Linked DNA regions of Homo sapiens. The gene in region 3 interacts genetically with the main gene of each other region. Each region holds a gene or a part of one and is shown on either strand. Other genes may lie near its edges. The genes, in order: BNIP3L, BNIP3, HRK, BCL2L12, BMF and BOK.

Evidence for each region.
Region 1: changes in HRK (region 3) and BNIP3L together harm fitness more than expected from each alone (negative genetic interaction), as found in Homo sapiens cells (one large-scale study listed by BioGRID).
Region 2: changes in HRK (region 3) and BNIP3 together harm fitness more than expected from each alone (negative genetic interaction), as found in Homo sapiens cells (one large-scale study listed by BioGRID).
Region 4: changes in HRK (region 3) and BCL2L12 together harm fitness more than expected from each alone (negative genetic interaction), as found in Homo sapiens cells (one large-scale study listed by BioGRID).
Region 5: changes in HRK (region 3) and BMF together harm fitness more than expected from each alone (negative genetic interaction), as found in Homo sapiens cells (one large-scale study listed by BioGRID).
Region 6: changes in HRK (region 3) and BOK together harm fitness more than expected from each alone (negative genetic interaction), as found in Homo sapiens cells (one large-scale study listed by BioGRID).

What each region holds. Positions count from the first base shown.
Region 1 is NC_000008.11:26,396,554-26,400,053, reverse strand, and holds part of BNIP3L (BCL2/adenovirus E1B 19 kDa protein-interacting protein 3-like), read right to left. Parts: intron 1-3,500.
Region 2 is NC_000010.11:131,971,924-131,975,423, forward strand, and holds part of BNIP3 (BCL2/adenovirus E1B 19 kDa protein-interacting protein 3), read right to left. Parts: intron 2,021-3,500; coding exon 1,870-2,020; intron 1,196-1,869; coding exon 1,111-1,195; intron 1-1,110. UniProt on the Homo sapiens protein: Apoptosis-inducing protein that can overcome BCL2 suppression. May play a role in repartitioning calcium between the two major intracellular calcium stores in association with BCL2.
Region 3 is NC_000012.12:116,875,532-116,879,031, forward strand, and holds part of HRK (activator of apoptosis harakiri), read right to left. Parts: intron 3,014-3,500; exon of another isoform or gene 2,927-3,013; intron 1,270-2,926; exon of another isoform or gene 1,160-1,269; intron 1-1,159. UniProt on the Homo sapiens protein: Promotes apoptosis.
Region 4 is NC_000019.10:49,668,933-49,671,674, reverse strand, and holds part of BCL2L12 (bcl-2-like protein 12), read right to left. Parts: coding exon 2,738-2,742; intron 2,652-2,737; coding exon 2,560-2,651; coding exon of another isoform or gene 2,511-2,559; intron 1,460-2,510; coding exon 1,187-1,459; intron 1-1,186.
Region 5 is NC_000015.10:40,087,390-40,089,634, forward strand, and holds the end of BMF (bcl-2-modifying factor), read right to left. Parts: 3' UTR 501-2,245; downstream 1-500. UniProt on the Homo sapiens protein: May play a role in apoptosis. Isoform 1 seems to be the main initiator.
Region 6 is NC_000002.12:241,557,249-241,561,544, reverse strand, and holds the start of BOK (bcl-2-related ovarian killer protein), read right to left. Parts: upstream 2,801-4,296; 5' UTR 2,552-2,800; exon of another isoform or gene 2,402-2,551; intron 2,327-2,401; exon of another isoform or gene 2,091-2,326; 5' UTR 2,062-2,090; coding exon 1,842-2,061; intron 1,475-1,841; exon of another isoform or gene 1,281-1,474; intron 1-1,280.

The DNA.
Region 1 (3,500 bases), on a different chromosome or scaffold from region 3:
CAATTCTGTGAAGAAAGTCATTGGTAGCTTGATGGGGATGGCACTGAATCTGTAAATTATCTTGGGCAGTATGGCCATTTTCACGATATTGATTCTTCCTACCCATGAGCATGGAATGTTCTTCCATTTCTTTGTATCCTCTTTTATTTCCTTGAGCAGTGGTTTGTAGTTCTCCTTGAAGAGGTCCTTCACATCCCTTGTAAGTTGGATTCCTAGGTATTTTATTCTCTTTGAAGCAATTGTGAATGGGAGTTCACTCATGATTTGGCTGTTTGTCTCTTGTTGGTGTATAGGAATGCTTGTGATTTTTGTACATTGATTTTGTATCCTGAGACTTTGCTGAAGTTGCTTATCAGCTTAAGGAGATTTTGGGCTGAGAAAATGGGGTTTTCTAGATAAACAATCATGTCATCTGCAAACAGGGACAATTTGACTTCCTCTTTTCCTAATTGAATACCCTTTATTTCCTTCTCCTGCCTGATTGCCCTGGCCAGAACTTCCAACACTATGTTGAATAGGAGCGGTGAGAGAGGGCATCCCTGTCTTGTGCCAGTTTTCAAAGGGAATGCTTCCAGTTTTTGCCCATTCAGTATGATATTGGCTGTGGGTTTGTCATAGATAGCTCTTATTATTTTGAAATACGTCCCATCAATACCTAATTTATTGAGAGTTTTTAGCATGAAGGGTTGTTGAATTTTGTCAAAGGCTTTTTCTGCATCTATTGAGATAATCATGTGGTTTTTGTCTTTGGCTCTGTTTATATGCTGGATTACATTTATTGATTTGTGTATATTGAACCAGCCTTGCATCCCAGGGATGAAGCCCACTTGATCATGGTGGATAAGCTTTTTGATGTGCTGCTGGATTCGGTTTGCCAGTATTTTATTGAGGATTTTTGCATCAATGTTCATCAAGGATATTGGTCTAAAATTCTCTTTTTTGGTTGTGTCTCTGCCCGGCTTTGGTATCAGAATGATGCTGGCCTCATAAAATGAGTTACAGAGGATTCCCTCTTTTTCTATTGATTGGAATAGTTTCAGAAGGAATGGTACCAGTTCCTCCTTGTACCTCTGGTAGAATTCGGCTGTGAATCCATCTGGTCCTGGACTCTTCTTGGTTGGTAAACTATTGATTATTGCCACAATTTCAGCTCCTGTTATTGGTCTATTCAGAGATTCAACTTCTTCCTGGTTTAGTCTTGGGAGAGTGTATGTGTCGAGGAATGTATCCATTTCTTCCAGATTTTCTAGTTTATTTGCGTAGAGGTGTTTGTAGTATCATTTTTTGTCTATTTGATTCTTCTCTCTTTTTTTCTTTATTAGTCTTGCTAGCGGTCTATCAATTTTGTTGATCCTTTCAAAAAACCAGCTCCTGGATTCATTGATTTTTTGAAGGGTTTTTTGTGTCTCTATTTCCTTCAGTTCTGCTCTGATTTTAGTTATTTCTTGCCTTCTGCTAGCTTTTGAATGTGTTTGCTCTTGCTTTTCTAGTTCTTTTAATTGTGATGCTAGGGTGTCAATTTTGGATCTTTCCTGCTTTCTCTTGTGGGCATTTAGTGCTATAAATTTCCCTCTACACACTGCTTTGAATGCGTCCCAGAGATTCTGGTATGTTGTGTCTTTGTTCTCGTTGGTTTCAAAGAACATCTTTATTTCTGCCTTCATTTCGTTATGTACCCAGTAGTCATTCAGGAGCAGGTTGTTCAGTTTCCATGTAGTTGAGCGGCTTTGAGTGAGATTCTTAATCCTGAGTTCTAGTTTGATTGCACTGTGGTCTGAGAGATAGTTTGTTATAATTTCTGTTCTTTTACATTTGCTGAGGAGAGCTTTACTTCCAACTATGTGGTCAATTTTGGAATAGGTGTGGTGTGGTGCTGAAAAAAATGTATATTCTGTTGATTTGGGGTGGAGAGTTCTGTAGACGTCTATTAGGTCTGCTTGGTGCAGAGCTGAGTTCAATTCCTGGGTATCCTTGTTGACTTTCTGTCTTGTTGATCTGTCTAATATTGACAGTGGGGTGTTAAAGTCTCCCATTATTAATGTGTGGGAGTCTAAGTCTCTTTGTAGGTCACTCAGGACTTGCTTTATGAATCTGGGTGCTCCTGTATTGGGTGCATATATATTTAGGATAGTTAGCTCCTCTTGTTGAATTGATCCCTTTACCATTATGTAATGGCCTTCTTTGTCTCTTTTGATCTTTGTTGGTTTAAAGTCTGTTTTATCAGAGACTAGGATTGCAACCCCTGCCTTTTTTTGTTTTCCATTTGCTTGGTAGATCTTCCTCCATCCTTTTATTTTGAGCCTATGTGTGTCTCTGCACGTGAGATGGGTTTCCTGAATACAGCACACTGATGGGTCTTGACTCTTTATCCAATTTGCCAGTCTGTGTCTTTTAATTGCAGAATTTAGTCCACTTACATTTAAAGTTAATATTGTTATGTGTGAATTTGATCCTGTCATTATGATGTTAGCTGGTGATTTTGCTCGTTAGTTGATGCAGTTTCTTCCTAGTCTCGATGGTCTTTACATTTTGGCATGATTTTGCAGCAGCTGGTACCGGTTGTTCCTTTCCATGTTTAGCGCTTCCTTCAGGAGCTCTTTTAGGGCAGGCCTGGTGGTGACAAAATCGGTCAGCATTTGCTTGTCTGTAAAGTATTTTATTTCTCCTTCACTTATGAAGCTTAGTTTGGCTGGATATGAAATTCTGGGTTGAAAATTCTTTTCTTTAAGAATGTTGAATATTGGCCCCCACTCTCTTCTGGCTTGTAGGGTTTCTGCCAAGAGATCCGCTGTTAGTCTGATGGGCTTCCCTTTGAGGGTAACCCGACCTTTCTCTCTGGCTGCCCTTAACATTTTTTCCTTCATTTCAACTTTGGTGAATCTGACAATTATGTGTCTTGGAGTTGCTCTTCTCGAGGAGTATCTTTGTGGCGTTCTCTGTATTTCCTGAATCTGAACGTTGGCCTGCCTTGCTAGATTGGGGAAGTTCTCCTGGATAATATCCTGCAGAGTGTTTTCCAACTTGGTTCCATTCTCCGCATCACTTTCAGGTACACCAATCAGACGTAGATTTGGTCTTTTCACATAGTCCCATATTTCTTGGAGGCTTTGCTCATTTCTTTTTATTCTTTTTTCTCTAAACTTCCCTTCTTGCTTCATTTCATTCATTTCATCTTCCATTGCTGATACCCTTTCTTCCAGTTGATCGCATCGGCTCCTGAGGCTTCTGCATTCTTCACGTAGTTCTCGAGCCTTGGTTTTCAGCTCCATCAGCTCCTTTAAGCACTTCTCTGTATTGGTTATTCTAGTTATACATTCTTCTAAATTTTTTTCAGTTTTCAACTTCTTTGCCTTTGGTTTGAATGTCCTCCCGTAGCTCACTCTAATTTGATCGTCTGAAGCCTTCTTCTCTCAGCTCGTCAAAATCATTCTCCATCCAGCTTTGTTCCGTTGCTGGTGAGGAACTGCGTTCCTTTGGAGGAGGAGAGGCGCTCTGTGTTT
Region 2 (3,500 bases), on a different chromosome or scaffold from region 3:
GGAAGGGTCAGCTACTAACCCTGCCTGGAAGGCCATGCTTCCTCACAGAGCTTCCAAAATACAGAACACAGTCCGTCGTCAAAGTTCTCACCAGCAACGAACACCCAAGAAAACACATCGCGCATCTCATCTGCAGCAAGGTAAGGCACTGCCAGATATAACTGAGCAAGACAGTACTGATCACTGCCTCGAACCCTATCTGTGCCGGAGTAGGAAGGGAGAACGATAGTACACCAAGGCAATAACCCCAGGTACACTTTTTCCTCTAAGACTCACTCCGCTTTCACAACAATGCTGAAGGCCGCTCTGTAAAGCCCATTCAATAGCTGTTAACAGAAAAGTCATCTTAGGCTGGACACAGTATCTCACACCTATAGTCCCAGTATTTTGGGAGGATCACTTGAGCCCTGGAGTTCAAGACCACCCTGGGCAACACAGGGAGACCCCGTCTCTACAAAAAAAACTTTTTTAAAAAAGAAGAAAAAGTGATCTTACACTAAATTATCAGGCTGATCAGCCGCTAATGCTACACTGCTCCGGCACCAGTTAGCTCAGGACTAATGCTAGGAAAGGCACAGGGTGTAATTTCCGGCAGGTAGTGAGTGTCTAATGAGGAAGACACCTCAGAGTCACAGCCACAGTGGCCACATGGCCTTAGATGGCCCCGTGGGTAACTCCTGAGTCCCACACAGCATGCAAATATTAAAACCCACTCACTGTCCAACCAGCAACCACGAGGAAAGACCAGCCAGTAGCTGGCTCACTGCCACCCCTTCCAATGGTCCCTCCCTCCTCTCTAGGCTGCAGCCACCAGGGAGCCCTTCCTCCTTTCCGGTGTATCCCTGATGGCAGGCAGGGAGGGACAGGAGGCCCCCGCTGCCTGTCCCACTCGGCGCCTCCCCCGCTCAGCTGAGTGTCCAGCCCATGTGCTTGTGGATGTTCCCACCCACAGTTTCTTGGTTTTTTTGTTTCGCTTTTTTGTTTTTTTTAAAGCAGGAAACACCCTTAAAGCCCGACTTTTCTCTGAGGTGCTCAATTACATTTAAAACCGTTTCCTGTACAAACAGATCACAAATACTTTTACAACTGCACATTCTCCTTCCAGCTTACCTGTGAGCTGTTTTTCTCTCCAATGCTATGGGTATCTGTTTCAGAAGCTCTGTTGGTATCTTGTGGTGTCTGCGAGCGAGGTGGGCTTGGCGATGTGAATAGAATGGGAAAAACAGAACATCATGTGAACATTCTATCATTAGAAGCTCAAACCCCAAAGGCAGTGAACCGCCTCCGTGATGAGGGGCTCTAGCCAGTCAGCGTACGCGTCTTCCCTTCCACCCAGCACCTGCCAGAGCCAAACTCTTCCTCAGCCCTTTTGGCTGAGCACGACAGGAGTGAGCTAGCCAGTCTTCCAGAGAAGACGCAGGGGCAACTGGCAAGCAGCTGGCTTTGTCACCTGCCGCCTTCACGGTCTGGGTCTGTTGCACAGCTCTCAAGGGCACGCGACCTTTGACCACTGTCGGCCACTCTACCTTGGAGTCACTCAGAAGTACTGCTAACCAGGGACCGCTCCTCCTGCGACCACAGCCCCGCTGAGGCGCGTGAGTGCGTTTCTCAGAGTGGGGTTTGTGGCTGTTCCGCTGCCTACTGATGACTTGAACATGGCTCCCCACAGACTAAGTCCCAGGTCACTGCATCCCCAAAGAGGGCGAGGCTCCTATATAAGGACGGACTGCAGCAGGAGCCAGTCCAGAACGCGGCCCGAGGCGAACAGCAGCCCACTGTCCTAGAGGTGACACGGGCACTTCCAGCTGTGACTGTCACCCACTGAAGACATCGGCACTGTAACACATACACTTGTTGATGCGCGCCTACCTGTCACAGTGAGAGCTCTTGGAGCTACTCCGTCCAGACTCATGCTGTGCGTCCAGCAGTATTTTTTCCATGTCTCCATTATAAATAGAAACCGAGGCTGGAACGCTGCCCCCGTTCCCATTATTGCTGAAGTGCAGTTCTACCCAGGAGCCTGATGGGGACAAAAAAAGGGGCGCAGATGGAATTCTCTACCCACTCTGGAATCTGCTCTTGATATCTAACCAGCCTGCCCTTCCATTTCCAAGAGGTAGCAATGGTGCCACACCAGGAACCATCCCTCAACCCCGACTTGAAGACATCCCTCTGCCCACTCTCATGGCAGTGACTGTCCACGCACACACTCCCTGGGTACAGGAAGGAAGCCCCCTGGGGCTGAGACCATGTATCTGTCCAGCTCTTGCAGTCCCTTTATACCAAGCCAATGTCCAATAACTCTGCTGAGTCAACAGAATCCAATTAGAATACTTCCTTGCAGTGAGCTTTTATAAGAAAAAGGCTATTATTTGGAAAAAGAGGTCTTTAAAAAAAACAACAACAACACTAATGTCAACATAAGCTTAAGGGATTTGAAGTTTTCTTTAAAAGGTTTAAGCTCTATTTTTTGTTTCTTTTCGAGACGGAGTCTCGCTTTGTCACCCAGGCTGGGGTGCAGTGGCACGATGAAGGCTCACTATAATCTCAAACTCCTGGGTTCAGGCCATCCTCTAGCTGACACCTCCGGAATAACTGGAACTACAGGCATGCACCACTACTCCTGGCTATTTTTTTTAGGAGATGGGGTCTCGCTATATTGCCCAGGCTAGTCTCGAACTTCTGGGCCCAAGCAGTCCTCTCACCTCAGCTTCCCAGTGTGCTGGGATTACAGGCGTGAGCCACCATGCCCAGCCTCTATGACTTGCATCGTGTGGCTTACTTTGCATTTATATAATTTCTAACGAGGTTGAAGACGGTTTTACAAGTTTGCTAGCCATCTGGATAGCATCTTTTTTGAACTGGTTCTTCGAATCTCTTATTCTTTTCTATTATCTGTCTTTCTCTTATTTGTGGGCATCCAGCAGTATTTTTTCCATGTCACCATTATAAATAGAAACTGAGGCTGGAACGCTGCTCCCGTTCCCTTACTGCTAAAAGTGCAATTCTGGGATAATTCTGTATTCTAGATATATGTTTTTCTGCATTTAAATATGTTGCAAGTAACTTTCCCTCGGTAGCTTGTTCTTTTCACTTCTGATGTCTTCTGATGTACAGAAGTTCTTGATTTTAATTCAGTCAAATGCAGCAATCCCTTCCTGAGCTGAGATATTCTATTCTATTATTTTCACACAGCTCTACTGTTATGACAGTCACATTTAGATCCAAAATCTACATGGATTAATTTTCCCATTGATGTGAGACGGATGCCCCATTTACTGCAGACAGCTCCCGCCTCACTCTGCGCTGGCTGCTTCCTGTGTCAGAAATCAAGCGTGCATATAGGCACACGTCTATTTCTGGGCCCCAGATAATCTCTCTACTTTGTGTCATAGGTTTATTTATTTAAAGCAAATCTGGTAGGAGCTTCCTCTGGTAGCGTATGGAGGATGGAGTGCAGTGGGAGGAAAGTGCAGGCCACAAAAGACAGGGAAACTTAT
Region 3 (3,500 bases):
TTTCTTTTTTTATTTTTTATTTTTTTGTAACAGAGTCTCACTCATTCTGTCGCCCAGGCTAGAGTACAGTGGCGCGATCTCGGCTCACTGCAACCTCCGCCTCCTGGGTTCATGCAATTCTCCTGCCTCAGCCTCCCAAGTAGCTGGGACTACAGGCACACACCATCATGCCTGGCTAATTTTTGTATTTTTAGTGGAGATGGGGTTTCACCACATTGGCCAGGCAGGTCTCGAACTCCTGACCTCAAGTGATCCACCCGCCTCAGCCTCTCAAAATGCTGGGATTACAGGTGTGAGCCAGCATACCCGGCTGATGTTGCATAGTTTCTGATTCATTTAACACAGCACATAGTTATTGTACACCTACTATGAGACAAGCAAGTTGCCAGGGACTAGGGACACTGTGGGTTAGCTTTCTATTCCCGTGAAATCCTATCACAGGGACACTAGTGAGGACTACCAAGAAACGGAAGCCCCCTCCCCACCTCTCGTTATCTGCCTGTCTAAAAGGCTGACTTTTCAAAAACTCTAGAGTTATGATTGCCAAATCCAGCCAGCCCACATCTGGGGGTATATTTAATTATCCCCGGGTGTGGCTCTTTTCCATCCACAGCTCAGTCACTTGTACTCTGGCCTCTCACTATGCGAGCGGATGACTCCAGACAGAGACCATGTGGCAGGAAGGCTGCCTGGTTCTGCACATCTGGCCCCTTCCCGGGGGGTTCCTCCCCAACAGCTGTCCTCCTCGGGCTCCCTCGCCAAACAGAAGGCCAAGCTTTCAAGCTCTAAAAGTAATTCTGGCAGGGGTGCTGCGAGCTGGGAGGGAGGCCTGCGGGATGCGCCTCCAGGTTTAACCACTTAATCCCCAAAGTACCTGCCAAGAACCAGTTAGCATGTCTGGCTGGTGGGCCAGGCTGTCATTAATTCATTAAAGCAGGCTCCCGCTGGCCCATTATCTTCCTTGCCACTGACCACGTCGCCTTATGGGCCTGCGGAGTCCCCCTCTCTCCCCTTCCCCTGCTCCCAAGGCAGGATTCTACCCAGCCCTGGCCCCGACTCCCAGGCAGATTCCTCGGCTCCATTCTCTCTCCCTCCCTGCCCCCTCCCCAGGCACGCTTCTCCCTCCCTCCCTCCCACGCCTCCGCCAGCCAGCACTCACCATAAAGCGTCTTTTGTTCCCTCTCTCCTGTATCTTTGAGTATTGACTGGTTAAATCATACCCATCCTCCTCCAGGCCTCCCCAGCCTCAGAGGAGCCTCCCCTGGGGCTCTGGAAGAAAGGGAATTTCACTTGTACAGGAATTCACTGTGCACCAACCCGGTCTGCTTACTGCCCCTATCTCCTCTTCCCCCGCAAGTCATGGGGTGGGGGGCGCTGTGTGCCCTCAAAGACAGAAGCTGCAGTTCCACTGGGGATCACTTAGGTGGATGCTCTCTGCCTCGGCTTCCCCTTTGAATTAAAAGGAATGACACTGACCATTTCATGACATCCTCTGTTGAGTGAAGTTAAGAGACAGACACTGCACTGGACTTTTTTGAGACAAGAGTCTCACTTTGTCGCCTAGGCTGGAGTGCAATAGTGCGATCTCAGCTTACTGCAACCTCTGCCTCTGGGACTCAAGTGATCCTCCCACCTCAGCCTCCTGAGTACCTGAGACTACAGGTGCACACCACCATGCCCAGCTAATTTTTTTTTTTTTTTTTTGGTACAGACAAGGTTTCACCATGTTGCCCAGGCTGGTCTTGAACTCCTGGGCTCAAGTGATCCGCCCACCTTGGCCTCCCAAAGAACTGGGATTACAGGACTGAACCACTGGCCCGGCCTGCACTGGACACTTTAAATGAATGTTCTCTTATCATTCTCCCAATAACCCTGGAAGGATACAGCTCCAGTTTACAGATAAAGGTGCAGAGGTAATGGTTCTTTCTCAAGGTCACGCTGTCAGCAAATGGCTGGACACTTAAGAGTCTCTTAACCATTATTCTCTCCTGACCCTTCTGGCACTGACTTCCCGGGAGGGCAGGTAGGAGTGGTGTGGAATGGCCAGCAATAATAATGGTAAAATGTTGACTACCTTGGGAAAGAATGATAGTAAATGCACAATAATAATCATGATGGCTCACATGTATATCCACTGTTCTAGAGCTTTCCGTGTATGAATTCATTTAACCCCCTTAATAACGTGCCTATGCACTAAGTCTGGCTGGTGGGCCCCCATTTTTTGCCCCCATTTTACATATGGGAAAACTTAGTCTTGGGTTTTTGTTTCTGTTTGTTATTTTTTTAAAGGATGACTTCTGAGAAAAGTATTGCTGGTTCGCAGTAGAGACTCAAAACAAGTATGCTGGATATATGTATGTGTATATACACATATATGTTTTAAATTATTATTGAGATGGAGTCTCGCTCTGTCGCCCAGGCTGGAGTGCAGTGGTGTGATCTCAGCTCTTCTTGGCTGACTGTAACCTCCGCCTCCCAGGTTCAAGCGATTCTCCTGCCTCAGCCTCCCGAGTAGCTGGGATTACAGGTGTGCACCACCACGCTCAGCTAATTTTTGTATTTTTAGTAGAGATGGGGTTTCACCATGTTGGCCATGCTGGTCTCAAACTCCTGACCTCAGGTGATCCACCTGCCTTGGCCTCCCAAAGTGCTGGAATTACAGGCGTGAGCCAACCTGCCTGGCCTGTATGTTGAAAATATTGATTCTGCATATAGCGGAGCACACCCTTTAAACCTATGGGAATTGAAAGTGGTAGTTCCCACCCTATATGGCTGGCACAGGCCTCCCTCAAACACCTAAGGTACAGCTGTGAACATTCCCCTTTTTCTTTTAGGGTAGGGAAGGTGGAGAGCACCCCATATCCAGCATAGAACGCAACAGACTGTCTTCCTCCGGTGATTTTTCTTTCCCCTTTACTTAACTTACCAGAGCTGGGAAAAAATGAGTTTCCCCAAATTAAATCAAAAGCACAAGAAAGGCCGGAGCGGCTGGTATTCTGAGGTCAGATGTAGGCTGCAGGGAGAGAACTTGATCAGGGCCAGTGCAGGGAGCCCGAGCACTGAGAACCCGGCCTGGGAGCGCAGGAAGGCGGGTGGTGAGCAATTCTACGGGTGTCCCGAGGGTATGAGGGGCGGTGCTGCTGGGAAGCCGAGCGGGGCATCCTGAGGTCAGGGCGCCAGAGGCTGCAGAACCCTGGAGGGTGTGGCTGCAGGGGACGCCCGGGCGGGACAAGGCAGGTAGGAGAAGAACCCAGAGGTGTGGGAAGAGGGTGTCTCCGAGTCAGGGCGCAGCACGGAAGTAACTCTGGGGTAGAAGGCGAGGGCGGGGCGGGGGAAATAAACTCCACAGAGACAATAACCTGCTGCTGCCCCCCAACACCGACTCAAAACAGCGAAACTCCTGGCCGCCGCCCTCCCCTGCAGCGCAGGCCCCAGTTACCCAACTCCTCCCCTGCGCTCCGGCGCAGAGCGGCGCAATCTGCCCGCCCCGCCCGCAGCCT
Region 4 (2,742 bases), on a different chromosome or scaffold from region 3:
TTGAGGTAGCACTACTACTCTCACTATTTTATTTTTTGAGACAGGGTCCCACTCTGTCACCCACACTGGAGTACAGTGGCGCAATCATAGCTCACCACAGCCTTGAACTCCTGGGCTCAAGTGATCCTCCCGGCTCCTCTGCCTCCTGAGTAGCTGGGAGTAAACGTGTGAGCTACCATGCTTTGCTAATTATTATTAATTTTAAAAATTTTTATTTATTTATTTTTTGAGACAGAGCCCCGCTCTTGTTGCCCAGGCTGGAGTGCAGTGGTGCAATCTCGGCTCACTACAACCTCTGCCTCCCAGGTTCAAGCAATTCTCTTGCCTCAGCCTCCCTAGCTGGGATTACAGGCATGCCGGGCTAATTTTGTATTTTTAGTAGAGACTGAATGTCACCATGGTCAGGCTGGTCTCAAACTCCTGACCTCAAGTGATCCACCCACCTCAGTCTCCCAAAGTGCTGGGATTACAGGTGTGAGCCACCGCACCAGGTTTTTATTATATTATTTTGTTGAGACACAGTCTCACTCTGTCGCCCAGGCTGGAGTGCAGTGGCATGATCTCAGCTCACTGCAATCTCTGCCTCCCAGGTTCAAGCGATTCTCATGCCTCAGTCTCCTCGGTAGCTGGGATTACAGGCACCTGCCACCGCGCCCGGCTAATTTATGTATTTTTTTTAGTAGACACAGGGTTTCACCACGTTGGCCAGCTGGTCTCAAACTCCTGACCTCAGGTGATCCACCTGCCTCGGCCTCCCAAAGTGCTGGGATTACAGGTGTGAGCCACCGCACCCGACCCTGGCTAGTTATTTTCAATTTTTGTAGAGATGGGGTCTTACTATGTTGTCCAGGCTGGTCTTGAACTCCTGGCCTCAAATAATTCTCCTGCCTTGGCCTCCAAAAGTGCTGGGATTACAGGCATGAGCTACCCCGTCCGGCCTCTCCCTGAGTAACCTCAGTCACTGGTTTCACGCTCACAGTATTAGCGTACCCAGTCGTTGACGCCAGGCATAGTGTCTGCACTCATCGCTGCAGTCCTGGCATACAGCAAGGGCTCAACAGAACGAACGCAGTGGAGCTGGGAGAATACCTGAGGTCTGAGAGGAACCTAAGAAGTCCCCGCCCCTCCTCTATCACATGACAGTTAGGTAAAGTGAGGCCCGGAGAGAGAGGCTTCAGCGGCTCACCCAGCCCCCGTGGGCCTGGATCCAGGGCGTGAAGCTGTGCACGTGCTCCACGCTGAGTCCGGCCAGGGTGCCCCCCAGCCCGGCCACGCGCCGGCTCAGCTCCATGGCTAGGGCCAGGCGGGCCAGGGGCTCCGGGGAAGGAGGCGGGGGCCCGGGGCATGCTCGGCTTGGGCGAGAGCTGTCATCCCGGCTACAGAACAGCTCCACCAGGCGGGCGAAAGAGTCGGAGGACAGGCGGACCAGCTTGCTGCGCAGGGCGGGGTCCGAGGCCAGCTGTAGGGTGGAAGAGGCAGGGTCCGCGTCAGCAGCGCCCCCGGGGCCAGCCAATAGAGGGCCGGGAGGCGTGGCTTCCCGGTTCAGGATCGTTCTAGATGCTAAGGTTCTAGGCCACCCCTCATCCATATTAGCCAATCAAGCCAGACTCCAGGGTCTCTGCCAAACTACCCCCGGGATAGTGGCCTGGAACGTGAGTCCCTAAGCCATGCCAGGCCCTTGCCTCAACAGCCAATCAGGGCCAATCTCTACTGTAACTGAGTTAATCTAGCCATGCCCCTGGTGACCTTTCCCAGGGGCCAACCTAGTGTCTACAACAATCTTGCCCTCTACCATTCAATTAATATTAAAGGACGATGTACCTTGTCCAAGCTCCGAAGCCAATCAGATTCCAGGACACAGCCACAAGCCACACCTCCTCTGGTAGTACATTTTCCCCTACATTCTAAGCCAGGTCCCTTCTATGCTCAGTAAGATTTTAGCCACTCCCCCCACCCCCACATTCATTCACTTACTTCCCCAGCTTGGCCAGTCTCTTGTGGATAATGTTTCTGATGGCCACACCCTCTGCATTTAGGCCATGCCCCTCTAAACAATCAATTAAAACAACTAATTTACGGTACAGTACTACCCTAACCATACCCCTGTCATTCAACTATTCTTTTTTTTTTTTTTTTTTAAAGACAGAGTCTCACTCTGTCACCCAGGCTGGAGTGCAGTGGCGCAATCTTGGCTCACTGCAACCTCCACCTCCTGGGCTCAAGCGATTCTCCTGCCTCAGCCTTCTGAGTAGCTGGGATTACAGAAGCGCACCACCACACCTGTCCGATTTTTGTATTTTTAGTAGAGATGGGGTTTCACCATGTTGGCCAGGCTGGTCTCGAACTCCTGACCTCAAGTCATCCACCCAACTCGGCCTCCCAAAGTGCTGGGATTACAGGCGTGAGCCACCACACCCGGCCTCAACCCTTCATTGAAACCTTGTCCCAGCCTCTTTCCACCTGACCATCCAAAGAAAATACAGATCCAGCTTCTGATCCCAGTGCCCCACCATTCCGCAACTCCTGTCCTTGCCAAGGAGTGGGACAGATGCCCATCACCTTCTGGTTAATGACTTCTGCCTCCTCCTCCAGCAGGGCCACCAGCCTCCGCAGTATGGCTTCCTTCTCTGTCGATGGGGGACCCTGTAATTCTGGAGGCAGAAGAGAATTTGGCTGGGGGCAGAACCCTGACTATCCTCCCACCGCCATCCTTCTCTGGGGCTCCTCTGTGCCTCACCTGGG
Region 5 (2,245 bases), on a different chromosome or scaffold from region 3:
TGTTAATCCACAAAGAAATGCAAGCCAGGAAGTCCCCCTACAACTAGCTTGCCTCCTGAGGGGCTACCCTGATAGAAAGGAGGGGTGGGGTAGTGTGTGCGGGAGGGGCTGCCGGGGTCCTTTCCCTCACTGGGTCCCAGTGGCAGACAGGCCCTTTTGACACATTCCCTTTAATCCTGCAAGGCCGGCACAGTCGTATTTCACACGTGGAAGAACTGAAGGCTCAGAGAGGTGACATAACTTGCCCAAGATCATTCAGCTGGAGGAGGAGGGAACCGGGTCCAAAACCTGCATCTTTCCCCCTCACAGGGCCTCTGCTGTGCTGCCTATCGCGTGGTGGTCGGAATCACTCTTCTCAACTCCAAGAGGGGAAAGGAAATCACGGCGAAAGCTGAGCGCCTTCAGGTCACTCAAGCTGGCAGCTGAGAAAGCTAGAAGGCTTTAATTTCCTAACTGATCTCCTTGCATTTTTACCACACCTTGAAAAATAAAAGACCAGATTTGCTTTAAATGATTTTATTAAAAATTGTACCAATTGATGGGGGGAAAGATATACACACATACACACATATGCATGTGAAGAACATAAACACATAAAGCCAAAGGCTCTGTACAGTTTTTTAAAAAATGGGGCCCCTTTCTTCTTCCTCTCTCCCAGAGGCAGAGTGCCCAGACCCCAGGGCAGCTACCCTGGGGATGAACAAAATGCTACATTCTCACTGGGTCTCCTCGATAGCCCCTGTGGATCCAGGGATGGGGTAGAAGGCTAGCAATGCTCCCAGAGCAGGGAGGGGCACTGGCCACCTGCACAGAGAGAGGGGGCAGTGGGGCTCTGAGCACCTTTAGCTGGGAGGCTGGCTGGGCACCTATGAGCTCAGCTTTTTCCGCTATCCCCTCAAGACTCAAAAGTCCCCACCAGCCCTCAGGCTGCCTAAGGGTGACAGGTGAGCCCCTTCCTGCTAGGGTGTCTGGCCAGGATGGCCTGCTTCCAAGAGTCCTCACCTTCACACACAGAGCTGTTTCCAGCCCAGGCCAGCACTGATTTGCAGAAGGCCTGCAGAGCCATGGTGACCAAAGTCTTCCCGCTTCTGCCACGTCCCTTCTGCCTACCCCACCTCCCCATCAAGTCCCTCAAAAAGAAGTGCTCACTGGGGTAGCATGCTCCTTGCTGTCCAGGACAGTCACCGTGGCTCCACAGCACTCTTCCTGGGAGGCCCTGGCTGAACCATCCCGAATAACCCCCAGGCAGGGGCCACCTGCCGATGGGGCTGGGCTGCCAGGAGCAGTGAGACAGGTCAGCTGGGCCCCTCTGGGTCCTTCAAACAAGCCTGCCACATAGCTTTGGACACAGACCTACTCCCCTGGGGGCTGAGGGAGGTCACTGGGAGGTGATCTTTTTCCACCTCGGATTGAGCAAGAGAAGGCTGCCAGTGGCCCAGACTTTGAAACAGGCCAGGCAGAGGCCAGGCTGAGTCCTCCACCCTCATTGCAGGAGTCCAGCGTCTGGCCTGGGGACTTCCCTCACCAGATCTGTTGACCAACTTCTAGAAACCCCTGCTTTGGGGTTGTGAATTAGAAGGGCTGTTTTGACCCTGAATATCAGGCTTCCCTTCCTCCCAGGCATTTCTTTCCCGAGGAGGAAGGTTTCCAGTCCCTCTCCCAACCCCCACCCTCAGCAAGCCACAAAGCCTCCACCGTCTTCAGCTGGTTACAGGTCAGGATCCAGGTCAGACTCTCCCTCCCTCTAAATCTGATTCTCCACCCCTCGCTAGAGACAGCCAGGCTCCTGGGGGTGGGGGATGGAGTCTGAGGGGGTGGAGGTCGGGGGGGAGGGGCAGGTCTCCTGAGGCTAGACTTGAGGAATGTTTAGGCCAACTCACCAGGCAGAGGAGGAAGGGGCCAGTTTAGATCACTAAGCCAATTAAAAACAACCAGCCAGAAAGAACCTTTCTCCTTCCTGACAGCTACTCTGCCAGCTACCTCCTGGGTTTTGTTGGTGGGGAAGAAGGGAGAGGGAAACGTGAGGGGTGTAAATTTTGCCCTGGCTCACTTAAGACAGTGAGTGAGTTCCTGGCTTTGCATAAGATGGAGACAGTGCAGTCAGACCACCTTCCACCTGCCCCAGGCTTGATGTTGAGGTGGGTTTGTCAAAGTCTGGGCTCAGTTCTCAGGCCACAGGGCACCCAGCCTGGGCCTGGCAAGGTCTCTGAAGCTGATGGCCTTGCCCCAGCACCAAGATCTAAAT
Region 6 (4,296 bases), on a different chromosome or scaffold from region 3:
CTGGGCCGCTGTCCTGGGCCACCCGCACTGCCACGCTCCCACCTGGGCTGGCTGGGCCCCTGTCCTGGGCCACCCGCACTGCCACGCTCCCACCTGGGCTGGCTGGGCCGCTGTCCTGGGCCACCCTCACTGCCACGCTCCCACCTGGGCTCTTGCTGCCAAGGGGATGTGCTTGGAGGTGGCACTGCATCAGCCCTGCCCCTGGCAGCCGAGGATGGCCCCTACAGGCCCACCGCCCCAGTGCTGCCTGTGGCACCCTTGGCAGCAGCAGCGCACAGGCACGGGGCAGATGGTGCCGAGAATGCCACAGGGCCCTGGGATTGGGAGTCCGCAGCCCGGCCAGTTCTCCAGCCAAAGCAAACAGGGTAATGCTGCTGACCGGACCATCCCAGCTGATAAAGGCTGCTCTGTATCTCATTAATTAAGATCTGGAAGCAGAGCAGAGCCCATGAGAGGCTGGCTGGGGGCGGGGGACGACATGGAAATTCCCAGGACTGACCCGGCAGCTCCCAAACACAGATCTCCGGGGCTGCTGCAGGCTGGCCCCAGACTGAAGGTGGGGACACAACCCGGGCTTCTTCCTGTCTGCACTGCCCAAGGGCAGGGAGACAGCGCTGGCCTCAAGGGACTGACCCTGAGCAGCCGTGAGGGCAGATGCAGGTCTGAGCTGTGTCCCTCTGGGGTCCCCCTAGACATCTGGGACTTCTTCCCAGCCATTCCAGGGGTCTGGCATCATCTTTTCAGAAGGCCACTAAAAGGATCCCCTAGGGTCATTCTCAGAGCCCGACTAGAGGCAGCAGCAGGCGGCGGATCTCATGGAGCCCCACCAACCCCCTAGCTCCCACCCAGAGACCTCTCCCTCCTTCTGAACTTCTCAGATGGGACTCCACCTCCTCCTGGAGGCTCTGTGCTGGTCCCCATGGATTCTGTCTGCACCCCACACACACTCCTGGGCAGGCCAGGTCTACACAGCTTTGCTCTCTGGGCCCAGCCCACCACGTAAGGGCAGGGGCCACCTAGAGCCCATGCCAGCGCCAGCCTGAGAGGAGGCAGCGTGTCCCCTCACGGGGTCGTGCCCTCCGACTCCAACCCCCTGCCTGGAGAGCCACCGATTCAGTTTCACCTATGCTGTCACCTCCCCTTCCCGGGCTCAGCCACAGGCGCCCCATGTGCCCTCTTCGGGCATCACATAAACATTCCCAGGTGACGGCCACAGCCCAGCTGTGGTGAGGGGACTGGACAGTCACAGTGGGGCTGGTCCCTCCCTCTTGGGTCCAGACCTTGGAGACGGTGGGGGCAGCCAGTGGACCGTGTGTGACCCCAGAACCGAGCACCCCCAGATGTCCTCACAGCACCAACGAATACTGAGGTTTTGGCTACCCAGCCCGGTGGGCGCAGTTTCCAATGGGGGGGCCTCGGAGGCCTCGGAATCCAGAGGGCAGCGGGCGGGATCTCGGCCAGTAACAGCAAGAATCTGTTTTCCAAAATAAACATCGGGACACGTGCTCCTACAAAGGGTTTCTGTGCCCAGCTGAGAACAAGGGTCACTGTGGAAGCTTAGCCACCCACTAATAGATTATTCTTTCTGGAGCTTTCTATTGTTTATGGCCAGCATGACTGAAATCTGGGCTGAGCAGGCAGCTGATGGGGGGGCCTGTGGCGTGGGAGGCCTGAGAGGGCAGATCCGGGAGCACCCGCCTGGGTGGCCCTGTCCCGAGCGCCTGGCCGTCCCAGGCAGGGGGTGGGCGCCCCTGGGCCGGACCCCCATCTCGGCCTCGGAGGGAGGCTGCGGCCCAGCAGGGGAGGAGGCGCAGCTGGGGATCCCACCAGGGCGCACTCACCCAGGCGCAGCAGCACCGCGCACACCTCAGCCAGGCGTCCCGGGACCGGCGCGGCACGCTCGGGCGCGCTCCAGGAGAGGCCGGCGCGCAGCAGCCGCGCGTGCACGTACTCCCGGCCCAGCGCCTTGGCCTGGGCCACCAGCTCCTTGTCTGTGGGCGAGCGGTCAAAGGCGTCCATGATCTCGGCGGCGAAGACCGAGGAGCGCCGCAGCACCTCCATGGCGGCGACGCGGGTGGGGGGCGCCGCACCTGCGGGCACAAGCGCTCAGCCGGGTGGAGGGAGGCGGCGCGGGGAACGGGGCGCGCGGGGCGCCGGGCTGGGCGTGGCCCTCGGGAAGGGCCGTAGCCGGCGCCGGGTCCGCTCTCGTTTTTTGTGCCCCAAATCTTTAAAAACCCAGCGCCACCTTCTTTCAGAGCCCGAATTCAGCTACAGACATTCCCCGAGGCTGCCAGGGACCGGTGGGGCCGCGGGGAGACGGCGGTTTGCTCCGGGGCCGCCGGGCCCGCCCTCGAAGACGAGTGCGTGGGCGGCGGGGGCGGAGGGCACAGCCCAGCGCGTCCCCCACGGCGACTGCCAGGACCCGGCCCTCCCCGCCCCGGCCCGGGGCCGCCCACCTCCGCCGCTGGCGTCCTGCGCGCGTGTCCCCGGCCTCGCCGTTCCCGTGGCACCCCGGGCACCCCGGCACGGACGCCACGCCCGCCGCGCTCACCTCTCCCGCCGCATGGCGCGGGCGCCGGGGTGGAGTTCTGGCTTCAGGATCTGCTCGCCGCCGACGACGACCTCGACCCTTCCATTCAGACCCGCGAGGACGCGCGCCCCGCCCCGGCGCCCGCCCCGTCCACGCCCGAGCCGGGAGCGCCAGGTCCACGGGGCTTCCCGCGCTCTTGGGGGGCTCCTGCCGCGGCGTCGGGGGCCTGGGCAGCGAGGTGGGCAGCGCGCGACTCCCAGCTGGCGAGAGGCTGGGCTTGGGGCTTGGCCTTCTAAGGGAAAGGCAACCCTGGGGGCGGAGTCGGGGAGACGCTTTCCGAGCTTCCCCGCTTAAGGAGGACCGAGCGAGTTCCCTGGATGCGCCCGGAGAAGGCGACCAGGCCGGAGCGGCCCCCGCAAGGCAGAGCAGTGGGGACCTAGAGCCAGCCCCAGCCGCCTGGGTGTTCCCCGGGGTCCATTTGAAAATTGGGTTGTCTTCTTCGTTCGTAGAGGTTCTTTCCAGAGTCTGGAGACGTGTTCTTGGTCCGGACGCATGCCCTTTGTATTGTAGATGGATTATTGGATTCGCATTTATTGAAGTTATTGCAAATATCTTCCTCTATTTTGTGGTTTACTTTTGCTTTGGATGAACAGGAGTTACTCTTAGTGATGTCCAATTTATCAATATTTTCTTTATGGTTAGTACCTTTTTATTGGGATATCCTCCTGTATTTCCTTTTAGAAGCTTGTTTTAGGGCTCATATTTAGATCTATGATTGATTACATATTAATTATTGTGAATGGTGTGGTACGGGGCTAGAGCTCATTTTTTTTCGTGTAGATATCCAATTGACCTGGCATCATTTATTGAAAAGCATCATTTTTTTTCCACCGAATTGGAGGAGTCCCCAACATCTCAACATAAATCAGCTGAAGAGTGTGTGTGTGTGTGTGTGTGTGTCTCGGAACTCTATCCCACTGGTTTATTTCTTTATCCTTGAATCAACCTCACACAGTTTGAACAATAGGATTAACCAACTTGGCCTAATTCACGTGTGTACAACACTATAAAATACTTATTCTTCCCATGTGCACATAGGATGTTTATCGAAATAGACCATATCATGGACCTTATACAAGTCTCAGCAAATCTCAACGGATTGAAATCTTACAGTGTGTCCTCTCTGAATTAAAAGTCAATAACAGAAAAATTACTGGAAAATCTGCAAATGCTTGGAAATTACATGTCACACTTCTAAATAATCAATGGGTCAATAATCACAGTGGAAGATTAAAATATGTTGACAAGAACAGTGAAAAATAAGACATATCAAATGCTGTACAGTGCAACTAAAACACTGCTTAGAGGAAATTTGATAGCTTTAGAAGAAGGATTGAAAATTAGGCCAGGTGAAATGACTCAGACCTGTAATCCCAGCATTTTGGGAGGCCTAGGTGGGCAGATCACCTGAGCTCAGGAGTTTGAGACCAGCCGGGTCAAAATGGTGAAAACCCCGTCTCTACTAGAGATACAAAAAATGAGTTGGGTGTGGTGGCAGGTGTCTGTAATCCCAGCTACTAAGGAGGCTGAGGCAGGAGAATTGCTTGAACCTGGGAGGCGAAGGTTGCAGTGAGCAGAGATCATCCCACCTGCACTCCAGCCTGGACAACAGAGTGTGATTCCATCTCAAAAAAAAAAAAAAAAAAGGAAAAAGAAAAATAAAATTACTGCTCTAAGCTTCCACTCAAGAAGCTAGAAAAGAACAA